Homo sapiens: one gene and its partners. The protein of the gene in region 2 interacts with the protein of the main gene of each other region in a pairwise test. Each region holds a gene or a part of one and is shown on either strand. Other genes may lie near its edges.

What was found.
Region 1: the proteins of PRPF18 (region 2) and TSNAX interact in a two-hybrid assay, tested with the Homo sapiens proteins (one large-scale study listed by BioGRID and IntAct).
Region 3: the proteins of PRPF18 (region 2) and BICD2 interact in binary tests that used the Homo sapiens proteins (3 or more experiments, as listed by UniProt).
Region 4: the proteins of PRPF18 (region 2) and RINT1 interact in binary tests that used the Homo sapiens proteins (3 or more experiments, as listed by UniProt).

What each region holds. Positions count from the first base shown.
Region 1 is NC_000001.11:231,534,767-231,539,743, forward strand, and holds part of TSNAX (translin-associated protein X), read left to right. Parts: intron 1-2,446; coding exon 2,447-2,561; intron 2,562-4,977.
Region 2 is NC_000010.11:13,603,371-13,608,347, forward strand, and holds part of PRPF18 (pre-mRNA-splicing factor 18), read left to right. Parts: intron 1-2,260; coding exon 2,261-2,374; intron 2,375-4,977.
Region 3 is NC_000009.12:92,757,259-92,762,235, reverse strand, and holds part of BICD2 (protein bicaudal D homolog 2), read left to right. Parts: intron 1-4,977. UniProt on the Homo sapiens protein: Acts as an adapter protein linking the dynein motor complex to various cargos and converts dynein from a non-processive to a highly processive motor in the presence of dynactin.
Region 4 is NC_000007.14:105,538,299-105,543,275, forward strand, and holds part of RINT1 (RAD50-interacting protein 1), read left to right. Parts: intron 1-3,428; exon of another isoform or gene 3,429-3,557; intron 3,558-4,109; coding exon 4,110-4,351; intron 4,352-4,977. UniProt on the Homo sapiens protein: Involved in regulation of membrane traffic between the Golgi and the endoplasmic reticulum (ER); the function is proposed to depend on its association in the NRZ complex which is believed to play a role in SNARE assembly at the ER.

The DNA of each region.
Region 1 (4,977 bases), on a different chromosome or scaffold from region 2:
TGATTTCAACAAGCAGTTCAGTCAGGAAATGTTTTGTGAACACCTGCTGCTAGACATGGATCTATGCTCTGATACAGTGGTGAAACAAGTGCATTTACAAATAAATAATATAATTTTAGCTAGCGAAGGATAAATGTAAATCAGTGAAGCGTGGTAAGGAATGGAGAGTAAGGGAGGAGGGAGGCACGTGATTCTTAAGCAGTCCTTGAGCAGAATGATATCTGAATGATGAAAGTGAAATGTGAGATGATGAGAGGCAGTAGCAAAAATAGAGGCATCAAGAAAGGTACAAGCTTAGAGAATCAGGACTAGCAAGAAGACATAGTCTGCCTGGCTCATGAGCTAAGGGCAGGACATGAGGCAGTTTAATGTGTTAGAGGCATGAATTTACTATGAAAAGATTCTAGATTCTGCGGGTTATTTTTCCCATAGGTAATGTAATCTTTATGTAGACTCCCAGTTGTTGTACTGTTTTATTAAATGTTAGGTATATACAACGTTCTGTAAGTATAGCTTTGTGTTCTGGAAAAGGTAAACAGTCTTTCTTCAGTTAAATTTATTTAATACCTTTTGCTCTAAGTATATTCACAAAACTTTAGATGTAGTCTTTTAAACAATAATACAAAGTAATTATTTTGTTAACTGTTAAGAATTTTAGTAAGGAAAAAATTTTGAGGCTGAAACATCTGATAGTGGTATAATGAAAGCTTGTTCTTTAAAAAAACTTAAAACACTGTTTTTGTTTGGCAGTCTCAAGTTAGGCTTTCCGTAAAAAGTTTACCAAGGTAAAATTCTTTGAGTCTCAATATTCGAGACTAAAACAAATTAAGCAGAGTAGATGAAACTTAAGTTAGCATAAAAGGTAAGCAGATTGGCAGTTATATGTAATAGATAGAAACAAAAGTATTCCATTCAGCATTAAGTGCTGATCGAATACAGGTAAGGAGAAAACAGTAACTATAAGGAATCAAAGTGCTGACATTTAAGGAGACAAATGTATGAAAATTTTCCTGAAGGCAAGACATGTTAGAATTGTGAAAATGCTTTGTTCTGTAAGGAAAAGGATGTATGAAAGTGGGGAGGAAATCTTTTCTTAATGTAATATTATGTTATGGGAGATTTGTGTCCGTAACAATTTGACAGGTTGAAGATTAATTCTATGTGGAAGTGTTGAGTCTTCGAAGATAGTATGTAAGAATTGGACACCACAGCCTGCGTTCAGCCTTTCATCGATCTCAGGAACTCTTCTTCATTTTCTCCTACTTTCAGTTCTCTTCCTAGATTTCTAACATCCTGACTAACTCAATTTTCAGCTGACTTTTTTCCAGCCTAATTAAATTTTGATGTTTCTTACTGATCATTTTCAGATGAACTCTGCCACAGCTTTCTATTGATTGCAGAACTACTTTATGATCTAGTTCTCTAGTTATAACAAAACTAACTCATGTAGTGATTGTCTATTTTCAGTCATTTTTCCTTTTTTCTTCTTTACTAATCTTTCTGAAAATAATATTTCTGAAGTATATTATGCTTATGTATGCAATATTACTACATGGTAAAACAGTAAATTTGAGATTATGTACTTTCTAAAATAAACGGGCTAACTAGATTTTTACTTAGTATTTAAATGTGATATAATTTGGTAGCTTTTTAAAAAATTAAGATACAATACACATACTGTGGCACTCACTTTTAAGAAGTTGTTTCATGTTCATTTTAATATACACGTGCTACCTTACTACAATTGACAGATTTTTAGAAAATCTTCAAGGATTCAGGAATTTGTGAGCTGCTGTGCGTTGTTGGCATTTACAGAAATTATTAGATATTTAGTTTTAAAGGTTTAGAAATCTGGGAACATTAACTGGACCTCTTGAGCTACTTTAGCGCTGTTAGTGATGTATACCTAGGATATTTGACAATTAACACTAGAGTCAGTAGATGCTAGAGATTGTTTATAATCACCTTTTTGTGTTTTGAGAATTAGTGTCATTACCATCGTGTTCTACTTCTGAATGAAGTCAGGTGACTGCAGTCATTGTCTGCATTTACATTGTGACATCTTTTTTTTTTTTTCTTTTTTTTGAGACGGAGTCTCGCTCTGTCACCAGGCTGGAGTGCAGTGACTTGATCTCGACTCACTGCAACCTCTGCCTCCGGGGTTCAAGCGATTCTTCTGCCTCAGCCTCCCGAGTAGCTGGGACTACAGGCACATGCCACCATGCCCAGCTAATTGTTTTATTTTTAGTAGAGACGGGGTTTCACCGTCTAGGCCAGGATGGTCTTGATCTCTTGACCTCATGATCCACCTACCGTGGCCTCCCAAAGTGCTGAGATTACAGGCGTGAGCCACCGCACCCAGCATATGTGACGTACATCTTAAAAATATTGTTTGGTAGGCTTTGAGTATAGAATATACATGCTTATGATCATAATGTGTTTTTAGCATTTCAGCAGGAACTTGATGCAAGGCATGACAAATATGAGAGACTTGTGAAACTTAGTCGGGATATAACTGTTGAAAGTAAAAGGACAATTTTTCTCCTCCATAGGATTACAAGGTGAGTAAGCATCTTTAGAATTTATTACAGTTTGATACTAGCTATTAGAATATTCTGTGACTTTGTGAGGATTAGAAGACATCAGCAGTAGGTACAACTTAAGAGTTAATATTTTAATAAAAATAGGTCTCAGCTGGGTGTGGTGGCGCATGCCTGTAATCTCAGCACTTTGGGAGGCCAAGGCGGGCAGATCACTTGAGCTCAGGAGGTCGAGACCAGCCTGGGCAACATGGTGAAACCCTGTCTCTACTAAAAATACAAAAATTAGGTGGGATTGGTGGTGCATGCCTATCATCCCGGCTACTTGGGAGGCTGAGGTGGGAGGCTTGCTTGAGCCTGGGAGGCAGAGGCTGCAGTGTGCCAAGATCCCACCACCGCACTCTAGCCTGGGCGACTAAGCCAGACCCTGTCTCAAAAAAAAAAAAAAAAAAGGAAAAGTCTGTAGGGGTTGGGTGGACTTAAGAAAGAAAAATTCAGAGCAGCTAGGGATTTTGTGTTAAGATTATTCATTAAGATATAGCTATTGTCTGTGAAAATATATGATATATTTTGATTGTTAGAGCCTGTTACATTAAACTTTATTTGGATGATATGCGTGAAAATTTTAATATTAGATAAATGTTAAAATCTGCATAACCTATTTTCTCGTTCATTTTTGAACTCATGGCAGTCTGGCTTTCTGCCTCACAATTATTGAAATGCCCTTGTTACCTTCATATTATTAAGTCTCTGTTTTCTTATTTTACATTTTTGTAGCATATGATACTGTTGACTACTTAATTCTTTTTCGAAAGTTCCTGTTTCAGTTTTGTGACTTTTGTTTACATTTTTTTCTCTAGGACTTTACTATTTTATTTTTCTACGCAGGCTTTGTATATTTGATAGACTTCGTGATTGCAAGTAAAAGAAACTAACTTAAACTAGTCTAAGCAGAACGGGGAAATTAATTATAAAAAAAGCCACTATCAACTAGCAGATTTCTTATTTTATGCACTATTTTCTATTACAGTTGTAATCATATTATTCATACAGTTTTGACTAGTAAACTGAGAAAATAGCAGACTTCAGAAAAATTAGAACTTCCCAAGATTCAGCACTATCTTATGAGCAGCTGAGGATCTCCATCTTCCATCTTTGCTTCTTTGTTTGCTTCATAATTCATTTGACCTGATTCCTTTGCCTGTTTCACGAGAGGTAGAATAGTATCTACCCTACAACTCCCCAGCTTACGTGTTTTAGTCCAGCTTCTGAAGACGGATTGTTGTTACAAATTCCAGATGTCTCCAGAAGGGTAGCTGTGATTGGTTTTATACTATATGTCACAGAAAGAATGTAGGGAAGATCACATATAATTTATTAGCTTTTCGTTATTGAAGATATTATTGCCCGGGCATGGTGGCTCACACCTGTATGGGCAACATGGCAAAACCCCATCTCTACAAAAAATACAAAAAACTAGCTGGAGATGGTGGTATGCAAGTGTAGTCCCAGCTGCTCAGGAGACTGAGGCAGGAGGATTGATTGAGCCCAGGTGGTCAAGGCTGCAGTGAGCCATGATTGTGCCACTGTACCCCAGCCTGGGCGACAGAATGAGACCCTGTCTCAAAAAAAAAAAAAAAAAAGATACTGAAGTATTCCGTTCAGTAACATGAAACTTTTAAGATAATTCTCACATTTTAATTTTTACTTCATTAAATGGAATCTAATTTGCCATACATAGATTTATTGAAATATGGCACTGTTAACATTTTCTTTTTCTTACCTGACTGTGTAAAATTAGTTTTTGCTTGTTTTCTCATATCATTCTTAGATAGCTTGTACATAATAAGGCTTGTATTATCGAAAGAAGCAATACTGTTCTTATTAATTATGGACACTTTTTTTTAGTACTTATTACAATTCTAAAACAATTGCCATCAGTATTCAGCAGTAATATAAATAACAAAAGCAATAATATAAAGAAAAACATACAGATTGAGTATCCTAAATGCTTGGGACTGGAAGTGTTTTGGATTTCGGATTTTGGAATACTTGCAGATAATGTATGGGTTGAGCATCCCTTATCTGGAAATCTGAAATCTGAAGTGCTCTTGTGAGCATTTCCTTAGAGTGTCTTGTTGCTAAGAAAGTTTTGGATTTTGGAGCATTTTGGATTTCGGATTTTCAGATTAGGGATGCTCAACCTGTAATAGGAATATGACAGGAGACCTTAATATTTTAGAAAAATCTGCGTTACTGTGTGAAGTCATCTTTTAAATATTTTTCCACCAAAAAATAAATGCTCATTATAGTAAACTTAGAAAATGGTAGTCTTTAGAAAAATTACGAATGGCAGAAAGGTAAAGCTACTTAATGAGACAAATCAGTCTGTAGTACCCAAAGATAGCCTCTATCAACTAGCAGATTTCTTATTTTG
Region 2 (4,977 bases):
TAAAAGAAATTTCGAAGTCAGGTAGTTTATTACCTTGCCTTTAGACAGAACCACTGTTATATAATTCCAGGTAGATGAGAGTTAGCTATTTAAACTGATAACCAGAAAAATATTATGCACTCCTCACAACTTGGCCTAAGTTATAGCACCCAATCTTAAGCAGTGTTTTACAGTAATAACTAGCTCACATTCCCTTTCTTTTTTCTGTCGAGGTTGTTTTTGTCTTTGACTGACTGACTTAGGGTCATCTTTCATCTTTGAGTCCTCAGTAGTCTCTTCCTGTTCGACCTCTGTAGTTGTGGATAGGACTGAATGTAAGTCATAGAAATAAAGCGTCTAGATCAAAGGCTTATGTATTCTGTACTTCTCGCAAGTTGACATGTTTGTAGTATTATTATTTAGTTCTACATTACCACATGTTTATGACGGACATTGCATAAAAGGAAATTTTCAGGGGAATGGTGACTGACTCTAGAAACCATCATATGAAGATGAGGTGAAGGAATTTAGAATAGTGAGGCTGGAGAGAAGAATTACTAGAGATATCTTTAAAAATCCAATGAAAGTAGCTCTGATTTTGGAAAATCAGAATATTCTCTGTAGTTTCATAAAGTGGAACTGGGATAAATGGGTAGAAGTTTGGGGGAAGTAGATTTCAGTTTTGAGAAGCAAAACATCTCTGTCTAAACAATGGGATGGGATGTTTCACGAAGAAATGTGATTCCTGCCATTTGTCAGCCAGGGATCTGACAAGGGTGTTTGTGAGGTCATTTCTGCATTGATTGGAGATAGCACTAGATGACCTCTTAAATTTCTGTTTTAATCTCAAACTTCTGTTAATCCACTGGGAGCCCTCTCAATGGATTTTAGGTGTGATGCTATTTATGCTCCCAGGTAAAGCTCTTGGTGTTTCTCATTATTGCTTTATTTAAAAAATTTGGACTAGTATTTATTACGTTTTCTGTTTCTTTCTTCCTTTTTAAAATGACATACATAGCATGTATATAAAGTGTATGAACCATGTTAGGGCAATATATGTTTGTTACACATATATGAATAATTATAAAATAAATATTCATGTAACCATCACCCAAGTTTGGAAATAGATTTTCAGCATCTTAAAAGCTCTGCATATGCAGATTATAACTCCCTGTTTTCTGAGGGAGAAGTTTTTGGTTTCATGGTGGTATTACAATGCAGACTGTCCATTATGGTAATTATCAGCTGGCTTCAGATTTGATTTTCCTTCTCTCTATAAATGCTGTCATTCCCTCCCATCTTAGTGTTTTTCCTGTGTGTCCTGCCACACAGATTGGTCCTATCGAAGCAGTGAGCTAAACGACCTAAACTTTATGGTTACTTAAGGTGTGATGGTAACACAGTATATCTGTTTATGGAAAATTAAAAGAATAAACAGATTACTTTTTTCATCTACATTTCAAAACAAGTGTTTGATCACCAAAAATATGCTGACATAAGGGATTACTATTGTCTTTCCATTGTTTTTAAAAGAAGACTAAGAACAGTTATAATTATGTAAAATGAGGGCCACAGACATGCCCCTTTTCTTACAAAAAAGAATTTTTTAAAAATCTCACAGTAAAAGAGGTGGTTTATATTAGGGTCTTTCTTTAGACTTGAATTGTAGAGTCATAGGTCAGACCACTTTCTAGGAGCTGTTCAGTGATAAAATTAATAACAGTGACTTTTGAGTCAAAATAGATTTTTAAAGTACTTGATTTTCTCTTTGATTTGGAAACATCTTTGTTTAGCTTAATTGAAATGATCTAAAATATTTGAAGGATTTTATACTTTACACAGAGGCATGTATTTGGATAATTAGCTTTTATTAAACCCAGGCTTGGCTTTTAAGGTACAATATACAAATTGTTTTTGAGATGTTTAGTTTTTTCCTCTCTCAAAAGTTTAATAGCTGGGCACATTAGCTCACGCCTGTAATCCCAGCACTTTGGGAGCCCGAGGCAGGCGGATCACAAGGGCAGGAGACTGAGACCATCCTGGCCAACATGGTGAAACCCCATCTCTACTAAAAATACAAAAGTTAGCTGGGTGTGGTGGCGGGCGCCTGTAGTCCCAGCTACTCGGGAGGCTGAGGCAGGAGAATCGCTTGAACCTGGGAGGCGGAGCTTGCAGTGAGCCGAGATCGCACCACTGCACTCCAGCCTGGGCAACAGAGTGAGACTGTCTCAAAAAAAAAAAAAAAAAAAAAAATTTACTGGGTATCTGTTTCACTTTGTAGGTCATCAGAAGATTGAGAGAAAGAGGAGAACCAATCAGACTATTTGGAGAGACTGATTATGATGCTTTTCAACGTTTAAGGAAAATAGAGATCCTCACACCAGAAGTTAACAAGGTAAGAGGACAGAACAAAGCTAGAAAAATACCACTGTACTGCATTCACTAGAATAGAGTTTGACTAATTGCATTATTGTAGGCAACAATGGAAAAGTAAAGTGAGCAGATTATTGCTGCTGAATGGAAGTTTTCATTAATTTTTTGAAAAGCTCATATCTTAAGTATAACATTTAATGCATTTTGACAAATACATACAAGCATATAACCATTGCCCTTATAAAGAAATAGAACATTTTCGTCACCAAAGAAATTTCCCTGAGAGCATCAGGAAGAATAGCGAATGGATGCTGGGCTCAATAGCTGGGTGATGGGATGATCTGTGAAGTAAACCACCACGACACACGTTTCCCTATGTAACAAACCTGTCATCCTGCAGCTGTATCCCTGAACTTAAAAGTTGAAAAAAAAGAGAAAAAGGAAATTTCCCCAGTACCCCTTCTCAGCCTATCCTCATATTTCTCCTCATCCCTTCCTGGGCAGCCACCATTTGAATTTTGTCATCATGGATTAATTTTGCTTGTTCTTGTATTTCATACAGATGGACTCATAGATTGTGTGTCTGGCTTCTTTCGCTCAGCATATCAGTTTTTAGGTTCATCCATGTTATTGCAGATACCACTGGTTTCCTTTTCATTTTCCAGTGATACTCAGTTGTATGAATATATCAAAATTTGTTTCCAGCTTTGGGCTATTAGGAATAAAACTGCTGGCTGGGCGTGGTGGCACAAGCCTGTAATCCCAGCACTTTGGGAGGCTGAGGCAGGTGGATCACAAGGTGAAGAGATCGAGACCATCCTGGCCAACATGGTGAAACCCCGTCTCTACTAAAAATACAAAAATTAGCTGGGCGTAGTGGCGTGTGCCTGTATTCCCAGCTACTTGGGAGGCTGAGGCAAGAGAATCACTTGAATCCGGGAGGTGGAGGTTGCAGTGAGCTGAGATTGTGCCACTGCACTCCAGCCTGGCGACAGAGTGAGACTCCTTCTCAAAAAAAAAAAAAAAAAAAAAAAAACAGGGATAAAACTGCTATGACCATTCTTATGCAGATCTTTTTTTGGAACTATGTTATTTTTCTTGGGTAAATAAATAGGTCTCTTGGGGAGATACCTAGAAGTAGAATTGCTGGATAATAAGAGTAGATGTATGCTTAACTTCATAAGAAATGCCAGTCATTTCCAAACCCCAGCATGTGGTATTGTTAGTCTTTTTAATTTTAACCATTCTCTTTTGTGTCTGGTAGTAGCTCTTTGCGGCTTTAATCACATTACCTGATGACTAAAGATGAGGAGCATCTTTTCATAAAGTTGTGTTCATTTGTGTAGTGTCTGTTAAAGTCTTTCTTTCCTTATTTATTTATTTTTTTGACACAGAGTCTCACTCCGTCACCTACGCTGGAATGCGGTGGCATAATCATGGCTCATGGCAGCTGCAACCTCCTGGGCTTAAGCAGTCCTCCCACCTCAGCCTCTCAAGTAGCTGGGATTACAGGCGCTTTTTGTTCATTTTAAAAATAAACTTGTCTTTTTGTAAATGGATTATAGGAATTCTTTGTATATTCTGGATAGAAGTTCTTTGTCAGATATACGAATATTTTTTGTGACTATTTTCTTGTAGTTTAGGGCTTACCTGTTCTCTTAATTGAATCTTTTGCTGAACAGAAGTTTGTGTGTGTGTACACACACGCTTTTTGAGACAGGGTCTCACTCTCACCCAGGCTGGAGTTCAGCATGATCATGGCTAACTGCAACCTCTAGCTCCTGGGCTTAAGCGATCTCCCACCTCAGCCTTCCAAGTAGCTGAGACCACAGGTGTGTGCCACCATGCCTGGCTGATTTTTTAATTTTTGTAGAGATGAGGCCTCCTCATGTTGCCCAGGCTGATCTTGAACTCCTCTACTCAAGGGATCCTCCCGCCTTGGCCTCCCGAAGTGCCCGGGCCAGAAGTTTTATATTTTAATGAAGTCCAATTTATTGTTTTTTCCTTTTATGGTCATTGCTTTTTGTGTCCTGCTTAAGAAATCTTTGCCTATCCCAAGATTTCAAATATATATTCTTAATTTTCTTCTAGAAGCTTAATATTATAGTTTTTGCTTTACATTTAAGGCTCTGATCTTGTTTTATGGCTTAGCATATGGTTTATTCCATGGGCTCTTGAAAAGAGTATTGTTTTGCTTTCATGGTACAGTTCTACAAATGTCAGTGATGATAGTGTTGTTCAGATCTTCTTTGGCCTTGCTAACTTTTTATCTACTTGCTTTCTCAATTATTGAGAGACAGGTGTGGTTACCTATGACTATGTAACAGACTACTCCAAAACTTACTAGTGTTTGTTTATTTATTATAAAGGATTTATCATTACCAAATCTGTTTTTGGTGATTAACAAGCCACCCTGAAACTTGATAGCTTAAGATAATTTGTTATTGTCTTAATAATTACCAGTTCTGTGGTTTTATTGGGCTGGATTGAGCAGTATCTTGCTTGGGGTCTTTATTGTGATTGCAGTCAGATGAAGGCTGCGGCCGAAATCATGTGAGGCTGCCTCTGGACTGGTCTTCTAAGCTGATATCTTGCCCCTTTCCTGGCGTCTCAGTTGGAATGGCA
Region 3 (4,977 bases), on a different chromosome or scaffold from region 2:
AACCACAAGATTTAAGGAGTCAATAATTGTGGGGTTTTTTTTCTCCTGTAGAGCGGTGTACCGCCTTAATTCTTTAGAAAACTTTATTTCTTGAACTAAAGTGCATTTAGTTACTAATAAATTGTGCTCCAAATGGAGTTGCTTGTACTTCTGCCCTGCATTTGTAGATAATAGGATCGTTGAGGGAAGGACGCTGGCCTGCTGGTCCCAGTGTGTGGGTTTCTGATCAGAGCTGAGGAGGGTCTTGTGGTGATGAATGGGAGACAGTGCCAGTCCTGTTGCCTTTCTCATGGGATGGGGGAAGTGTCTGTGTCCTGCTGACAACATAGCACGGTGCTGGCTGAGACCACAAGTGAGGTGGGTGCCCCCTGGTTGATTTTGCCTAATCATTCTGCTAGTGATTTCTTGAGCCTGACTCAGTTAAGACCATATCTGTCCCCGTTCCCACTGTGCCCTTTCCCTTCCTCTCCCTGGAATGGTGGGGAAGAGAATTAGATGGGCTTTGGTCAGCAACCTGGTGTTCCTGGTCCTGCGTGGCCGTGAGACACTTTGTTCTGTGTTCTTAGCTGTAGCTTTAAGAGGACAGGTGTGCTGAGGTGGCAGCTCCTGCCTTCAGGGCACAGGCAGGGACTGTAGCTAGGTGGGCTAAGGCTAGGTGCCCATGTGGTCCTCATGGTCAGGGGAGGGTAATGGGGGAGGTCTGAGAACAGTCTTGACTCCACCTGAGCTCAGGCTCAGAGAGGAGGTCTGGACACCCTCACTGCCTTGGTGTGCCACCTTGGTGTCATAGTGTCAAGCTCTGGAGCACCATTGTCCTTGTCTGAGAGGTGCACGTGGGTGGAATTGGGTGTTGGACTGGGCACAGCACCCAACACGCAGCAAGTGCTTCGTAGGTCTTCTGCGGACTGAATCTCATGCCTCACTCAGGTCTCTGTCTCCTTGCTGCTGCACCTGCAGCTTCTCCCCGTTCTTATCCTTGTCCCTGCTCAGTCTCAAGTGGCTTCCATTGCCACCTCCCAAGGGCTGCCCTAAGCATTGTCTCAGGCCCCTACAGCCTGGCTTGGGACTGCCCTACCTCTCCTGTGCCCACATTCACCCTTTGTCTTAGAAGTCCCACCTGCCCTTCAAGCTTGGGTGTCTCTAAAATTCCCCTGCCTGCTGCCTTCTGGACTTGCTGAGCCCTGTTCCCAGCACCTGGGCAGCTGCAGGAAGTGGGGGCAATAGGGTGATTGGCAGAGGACCCTCCAGGAGGTTCCTCTGCAGAGTTACTGGGGGTGAGGCCCAGCCTCTTTGATTGTTTGCTTCCAGAGCAGGAAAAGTCCTGGTCTTGGTTAAAGCAAGTGTGGGATTCTCCCATTCGTCTGATAACCCCTGAGAACATTGTTGTGTCCATTTCTGAACAGAAGGCTGTTGGGAGCAAGGAGGCTCTGGGAGACCCAAGGGCCTTTCAGGGGGCTGGGTGGTGGCAGTGGTCTGCTGTTGGTATGAGGAAGCCTGGCTTGGGTGGGAGCTGGGGCCCTGTGAATACCTGAAGCACAGATGGGTCTGACAGTTGGGGAGAGGCAGCTATAGGCATCCAAAGATGATGACCATGTGGCTACACTGTTGTCACTAATTGTTGGGCAATTCTCTCCCCGCTGGGCCTCTCTTTCCCCACTTTTAGAATATGGGGCAGGGGGTCATGAAGGAATCTTTAGGGACCCTTACACTTTTAAAAATGTCTGAAACTCCCACATCGAGCCCTGGTGCTGTTTCTTCCTGTAGGGCCTGGCGACTGGGCACTTGTGTATCTCAATCATCCTGGGACCTGGCCAGGGAATCTGCCCAGCCCTAGGCATGCGGATGGTGTGCTCCAGGCCAGCCCTGCCAGCATGTGGAGGCGTGGACCTGGCCACCCTCCATGGGATTCAAGGCAGGCACAGCTGTGATGGAGCAGCTCGTCTTTGGGGATGCCAAGCGAGCATGCTTTGTGGCTTAGCAGGTGGATCCAGAGGAAGGCCAGGCCCAGTGCTGGGAGCCCCTGGGCCCCTGGGGGTGCCTGGCACCACCTGAGCAGGACCGACTGTATATGATGTCTGTCCCTGTGAACTCCATACTGACTCCACAGGGGGAGTCTGGGCCCTGCCTGGTCTCCCAGGAGCTTGCGGCCCTGGATGAGCCGCTGCCTGTCTGGGCCGTGATAGGTTAATGATGATGCCTGTTACCTTGGCCCAGTGCTCTGTGAGCCCCCAAGGTCAGGGAGTGGTGTCCCTGTGCCCTTGTGTCTGAGCATCCGGCCCAGGTCCATATAGGATTCCTGCTAGGTCTCCCCTGTCACTTAGGGACCACAGTCCCTTCCTTTGAGGGAGGAGATCAGTTTCTTCTTTGTCAGTTTTGGGCATCCCCCAGTCAGTCAGACCTGCTTCCCCACATAGGTGGACCAGATGAAACTGTTACACACATCGGGGGTAAGAAAGATTTGGTTTCTTCTCAGACAGTACACCAGCTGTTTGAGGTGGTGGTGGCTGGTGGCCAGGGCTGGCCAGGACTATGCAGGCTTTGACAGGTAAAGCATTGGCCTTAGACCCTGTGTTGTCCAGTGTTCAGAGTGTGGCCTCTGAAGCCGAACTCTGGAGCAGGAGAGGGCCCAATGTGGCTGCCTAGCTGCCTCCTTGGGCTCAAACCCTGCTGTCCCAAGCTGGGCTCTGCTCTGCTGTGGGAGGTGGATGGAGAGATGGGGACTGAGTGGCAGGCAGGCTCCCCTTGCCACCCTCAGAGCATTGCAGGCCAGGGTTAGGGTTAGGAGGAGGTCACTGGGGGCCCAGCTTCTTTTTTAGAAGCTACTGTGTTTTAAAAAATCATACATTCACTTTAAGAACAGCAGAAAGTGGAGAGAACAGTGTCAATAGGACCTGTGTAGATGGCGCAGGACAAATGTGGGGAGCACTGGGTGTTTCTCTCTGCCAGCTCTTCTTCCCTTGTGAGTGTGTGATGTGTACAAGACACCATCAAACACAGGGGAAAGGCTTTGTGCATCTGTAATAGTTGTTTTTTGTTAAAGTTAGTTTGTTGCTACTCTGAGATACATAAAAGCAGGTTTAATTCAAGTAGATAAAGACAGGAAGGTTTCTGTGGATCCAGAGGTTCTGTGGTACTTCTAACTTATACTGTTGTGTTACTATATGAAATAATTGTCATGGTTTGCTTTTTATAGTTGGCTTTTTACTTTTTAATTTATTATTATTATTATTTATTTATTTTGGTAGAGTCAGGGTCTCACTGTGTTGCCCAGGCTGCTCTTGAACTCCTGGGCTTGAGCGATCCTCCCGCCTTGGCCTGCAAAGTGTTGGGATTAGAGATGTGAGCTACCACGCCTGATCTATAGTTTGCTTTTTTTTTTTTGAGACGGAGTTTCGCTTTTGTTGCCCAGGCTGGAGTGCAATGGCGCGATCTTGGCTCACCACAACCTCCGCCTCCCAGGTTCCAGCGATTCTCCTGCCTCAGCCTCCCTAGTAGCTGGGATTATAGGCATGTGCCACCATGCCCGGCTAATTTTTTTTGTATTTTTAGTAGAGATGGGGTTTCTCCATGTTGGTCAGGCTGGTCTCGAACTCCTGACCTCAGGTGATCCGCCTGCCTTGGCCTCCCAAAGTGCTGGGATTACAGGCATGAGCCACCACGCCCAGCCTTTTTTTTTTTTTTTTTGAGACGGAGTCTTGTTATGTTGCCCAGGCTGGAGTACAGTAGCTCGATCTTGGCTCACTGTAACCTCTGCTTCCCGAGTTCAAGTGATTCTCATGCCTCAGCCTCCTGAGTAGCTGGGATTACAGGTGCGCGCCACCACACCTGGCTAATTTTTGTATTTTTAGTAGAGACGAGGTTTCTCCATGTTAGCCAGGCTGGTCTCGAACTCCTGACCTCGGGTGATCTGCCTGCCTCAGCCTCCCAAAGTGCTGGGATTACAGGCGTGAGCCACTGCGCCTGGCTGCTTTACTCATTATTTACTTATTTATTTATTTATTCATATTATTATTATTATTATTATTATTATTTGAGACAGAGTCTAGCTCTGTTGCCCAGCGTGGAGTGCAGTGGCACGATCTCGACTCACTGCAAACTCTGCCTTCCAGGTTCAAGCAATTCTCCTGCCTCAGCCTCCCGAGTAGCTGGGATTACAGGAGCCCACCACCACGCCCGGCTAATTTTTGTATTTTTAGTAGAGATGAGGTTTCACCATGTTGGTCAGACTGGTCTCAAACTGTTGACCTCAGATGATCCACTCGCCTCAGCCTCCCAAAGTGCTGGGATTACAGGCGTGAGCCACCGCGCCCAGCCTTTACTCATTTTTTAAAGCCACCTTCTTTGTTGGATGTTTCCACATAATCAAAGGTGGAGAGAGTAATAGAGTGAGTCCATGTATGCTCCTGCCCTGCACCTGCAGTTTGCAGCTGTGGCCGGTCTTGTTTCTACCGCAGTTCATCCTGTGTAGCTGTGTCTGTAAGTATATCAGTTGTTTTGCTAAGAAAATAGAATCTTTTCTTTTTTTTTTTGAGATGGAGTCTCACTCTGTCACCCAGGCTGGAGTACAATGGCGCGATCTCGGCTTACTGCAAGCTCCGCCTCCTGGGTTCACACCATTCTCCTGCCTCAGCTCCCCCCCGCCCCCCCGCAGTAGCTGGGACTATAGGCGCCTGCCACCATGCCCAGCTAATAGAAAATAGAATCTTTTCTTACAAAACTTAACCATTGTTGAACTTTCACACCTAAGAAACTAACAAAAATTCTTTAGTGTCATCTGTTGTCCAGTCAGTGTTTGGATTTCCCCAGTTTGGCTCATAAATTTCATTTTACAGTTACTTTGTTTCTTCAGAAGCCAAGCAGGATCTGCAGGTTGCATTTGGTTGAAGGCCTTCTCAATTTTTTTTTTTTTTTTTTTTTTTTTTTGGAGACAGTCTCGTTCTGTCGCCCAGGCTGGAGTGCAGTGGCGTGATCTTGGCT
Region 4 (4,977 bases), on a different chromosome or scaffold from region 2:
ACATTTTTATCATATAGCTACTAAATTAGGTTAAGTAAATTCTGTGTGGGTTATTTCCAGGTTTTTGGTCATCGTATATTCTCCTGTCCCCATTACCTTAGGCCTCCACACCTTCCTGTCTTCCCACCACAACTACTGCTAGTCTTCAAGTTTAGCCTGGCTTTGTCTGCCTTTTCACTCCTGCAGGCAGGTTGTTGTGGGCCCAGTTGGAGGAAGTCATGCAGCTGAGTAGATTGATGCCAATCTATGTGTGTGGTCTGCCACCCTGGCTGAGTCTTCAGCCCCACCAGCAGTCCTTCCATGGGAACGTCAGCTCCTCTGCTACTCCCCTCAACTGTTCTTTCAGATTCTGTTTGAGACATCTACCCAACCTGTCCATTCTGCCCTTTCCTTTTCCCTAGCAGAAAAAAATAGAAGCCTAGCATGAATTTAGTAGCATTGAATTCAGTCTGTTGAATAGTCTATCCCACAATCGACAAATTTATGTGCAGTCATTTTTAACCTCTTCATTCAGCAAAGGATCAGTCGAAGGCAGACCTTATACCCCAGGTTCTCTCTGCCACCTCAGTAAACTTGTGTCACTCTTATAATTTTACCCTGTGTTCGTCAACCAGTCCTATCCCTTCAGCATGTGCACATAGACAGGTCTTTTCCATAAAACCTTAACAAAGAAACAAAAAAACCCATGATCTTTTAGCAGGTATTAGTTCTTTCCTTTGATTGTCAGGCTTCAGAAAGTAACCTTTGTTATCTATCTCTACTTTTTGTCATTCATCTTTTACCCACTGTAATCAGGTTTGTTTCCCTAATGACCACAGAAACTTTTACTGAAGTTCCTTATTGAACCTTAAATTCAGCATGTCCAAAACTATACTGATCCATTTTTTAGAGGCTTGTCTGTCTTGGTTAGATAATGGCACCACTATTTGCCTGTCACCCAGACCTGAAGCCTAGGAGTCCTAGATTCCTTCTTATCATCCTCTCATCCTCTATCCCATCACCAAGTCATCTGAGTTCAGCCTCAACATCTCTGGTATCCATCCCATCTTTCCCACTCTTTTTTTTTTTTTTTTTTTTTTGAGTTGGAGTTTCACTCTTGTTGCCCAGGCTGGAGTGCAATGGCACAATCTTGGCTCACTGCAACCTCCACCTCCTGGGTTCGAGTGATTCTCCCGCCTCAGGCTCCCAAGTAGCTGGGATTATAGGCATGTGCCACCACGCTCGGCTAATTTTGTATTTTTGGTAGAGATGGGGTTTCTCCATGTTGGTCAGGTTGGTCTCAAACTCCCAACCTCAGGTGATCTGCCCGAAAGTGGATCTTGGCCTTCCAAAGTGCTGGGATTACAGGCGTGAGTCACTGCTCCCGGCCCATCTTTCCCACTCTTGCTGATACCATGTTAGTTTAGGCAGATTGGGAGCTTTGTAGAAATGCAGAATCTCAGTCTTACTTCAGACTTACTGTATCAGAATCTGTATTACAACAAGATCTTTAGGTGATTAATGTGCCCATTCATTAAATATAGCCTGTCTATTTTATTGCATTAATCCCACTGTTGAAATTATTTGCTTACAACACTCTTATATACCAAAGTGACCTGAAGGACGGATGCTGTGTCTTGTTTATCTGCATATTTCTAGCGCAGTGCCTGGTACAGAATAAGTATCTAATCACTGTTGATTGAAATTATTCTATAATGTTCTTTGTATTTTGCTGATGACTAATATTTGTATATGTTTTCCCACATACTATAAGAAAAATTCACTTAATAAATGCCATTTTCTTTTTTTTTTTTTTTTTGAGATGGAGTCTTCCTCTGTCGCCCAGGCTGGAGTGTGGTGGTGTGATCTCAGCTCACTGCTACCTCTGCCTTCCGGGTTTCAAGTGATTCTCCTGCCTCAGCCTCCTGAATAGCTGGGATTACAGGCATGCGCCACCATCCTCAGCTCATTTTTGTATTTGTATTTATTTTATTTTATTTTTTGAGACAGAGTCTCACTCTGTCGCCCAGGCTGGAGTGCAGTGGAGCGATCTCAGCTCACTGTAACCTCCGCCTCCTGGTTTCACCAATTCTCCTGCCTCAGCCTCTTGAGTAGCTGGGATTACAGGCTCATACTACCACACCCGGCTAGTTTTTGTATTTTTATTAGAGACGGGGTTTCACCATGTTGGCAAGTGTGGTCTCAAACTCCTTACCTCAAGTGATCCACCAGCTTCTGCCTCCCAAAGTGCTAGGATTACAGGCATGAGACACTGTGCCCGGCTGAATTTTTGTATTTTTAGTAGAGACAGGGTTTCACCATGTTGGCTAGGCTGGTCTCGAACTCCTGACCTCCAGTGACCTGCCCTCCTTGGCCTCCCAAAGTGCTGGGATTACAGGTGTGAGCCACTGCACCTGGCCACTAAATGCCCTTTCTAAAGGCATTGCCTGGATATCATCTCATCAAGTCAGTGCTTCTTAGCCTGGCCTTAATTCAGAATCACCTGGGGTATGTTGGCAAAATATAGATGCTCAGCCTGTTAGAATGAGATCTTTGTTTCCTTTTTTTTTTTTTTTTTGATATGGAGTCTCGCTCTGTCACCCAGGCTAGATGGCAGTGGCGCAGTCTCGGCCCACTGCAACCTCTGCCTCCCGGGTTTAAGAAATTCTCTGCCTCAGCCTCCCAAAGTGCTGGGATTACAGGTATGTGCCACCATGCTCAGCTAATTTTTTTGTATTTTTTAGTAGAGACAAGATTTTGCCATCTTGGCCAGGCTGGTCTTGAACTCCTGACCTTGTGATCCACCCACCTTGGCCTCCCAAAGTGCTGGGATTACAGGTGTGAGTCACCGCACCCAGCTTGCATTTTTTTTTTTCTTCTTTGAGGAGTCTTGCTCTGTCACCCAGGCTGGATGGAGTGCGGTGGTGCAGTCTCAGCTCACTGCAACCTCCTCCCGGTTCAAGTGATTCTTGCCTTGGCCTCTCTAGAGCTGGGATTACAAGGTGTGTGCCACCAAACCTGGCTAGTTTTTGTATTTTTAGTAGAGATGGGGTTTCATCATGTTGGCCAGGCTGGTCTTGAACTCCTGACCTCAAATGATCCGCCTGTCTTGGCCTCCCAAACTGCTGGGATTACAGGTGTGAGCCACCGTGCCCGGCCCTTCCTTTGCTTTGAAGGAAAATATTTAGCAGGTAGAGCATGTATTAATAAGTTTTCTCGGCCTGGCACGGTGGCTTATGCCTGTAATCCCAGCACTCTGGGAGGCTGGGGTGGGCGGATCATGAGGTCAGGAGTTCGAGATCAGCCTGACCAACGTGGTGAAACCCCGTCTCTACTAAAAATACAAAAATTAGCCGAGCGTGATGGCACGTGTCTATAATTCCTGCTATTTAGGAGGCTGAGGCAGGAGAATCACTTGACCCCGGGAGGTGGAGGTTGCAGTGAGCTGAGATCACGCCACTGCACTCCAGCCTGGGTGACAGAACGAAACTCTGTCTCAAAAAAATAAAATAAGTTTTCTCTAGCTGGATCCTCTGCTGAGCCTATGGAGGCAGACCTCTAGATGCTTACTGGAGCCAGTGAGTTAAGTCCCTTTCTCTACATGTATGTGTATATGTATGTATGCATATATTTTTTATTTTATTTTTATTTTTTTGTTTCACTTATTGTTTTCAACACAAAGGCATACTTCTTCCTGCTATTTGTGTGTATATAAAACAGCATGTTATGTTTGGATTGATTAGTACAGGATGAAGAAATCAAACCTTTTTTTGAAGGTTTTGATGGATGATTTTCAGTTCTGTTACAAAAAATGTGTATTTTGAAGGGAACGAACTAATAAAAAAGGTTACATACAGCCTGGGCAACATAGTGAGACCTTATTTCTATTTAAAGAAAAAAAAAAAAGAAAAGCCAGGTGTAGTGGTGCATATGTGTAGTCCCAACTACTGGGGAGGTTGAGGTGGGAGGATTGGTTGAGCCCAGGAAGTCCAGGCTGCAGTGAGCTATGATGGTACCACTGCACTCCAGCCTGGGCAACAGCGTGAGATCCCCTCTCAAAAAAAAAATTATGAAAATTTTATCTGATTGCTGCTGTTCTTTCTTTCTTTCTTTTTTAAAATTATGGTCAGGTACTTACAATTTCATCAGAAATTCCTAAAAGAATTCGAAGTGCCTTAAAAAATGCAGAAGAATCAAAGCAATTTCTTAATCAGTTTCTGGAGCAGGAAACTCATCTCTTCAGCGCCATTAACAGCCATTTGCTGACTGCGCAACCTTGGATGGACGATCTTGGAACCATGATTAGCCAGATTGAAGAGATCGAACGTCATCTTGCTTACCTTAAATGGATTTCACAAATTGAAGAACTAAGGTAAAATGGGCCTCTTTGTTCTCACAATTACTATTTTCCTTTGAGGCTTCTGTCTTAGAGAGTACATGTGTGCCATTAAATAATTGAGTTAATTAAAGATTATAATAATATAATTTTACCAGTTGTTGTGAAAATAGCATTATGATAATGATTCTTTTCCTTTATTGTGAGTGAACATAAGCTTTTCAGGGAGCTTAATTAGCATTTGAAAGAAGGTAATGTAAGTACGTTAAACTTTTAAGTTTTTTTTTTTTGAGATGGAGTCTCGCTCTGTCGCCCAGCTGGAGTGCAGTGGTGCCATCTCGGCTCACTGCAAGCTACACCTCCCGGGTTCATGCCATTCTCCTGCCTCAGCCTCCCGAGTAGCTGGGACTACAGGCGCCCGCCACCATGCCTGGCTAATTTTTTTTTTTGGTATTTTTAGTAGAGACGGGGTTTCACCATGTTAGCCAGGATGGTCTCGATCTCTTGACCTCACTGTCCGCCAGCCTCGGCCGCTGGAAGTGCTGGGATTACAGGCATGAGCTACCGCGTCCGGCCAAACTTTTAAGTCTTACAGTTGGATTATGAACACATGATAAAAACTATTCTTTGTAATGCCAAATTAATAAAACACAAAGTTTGGT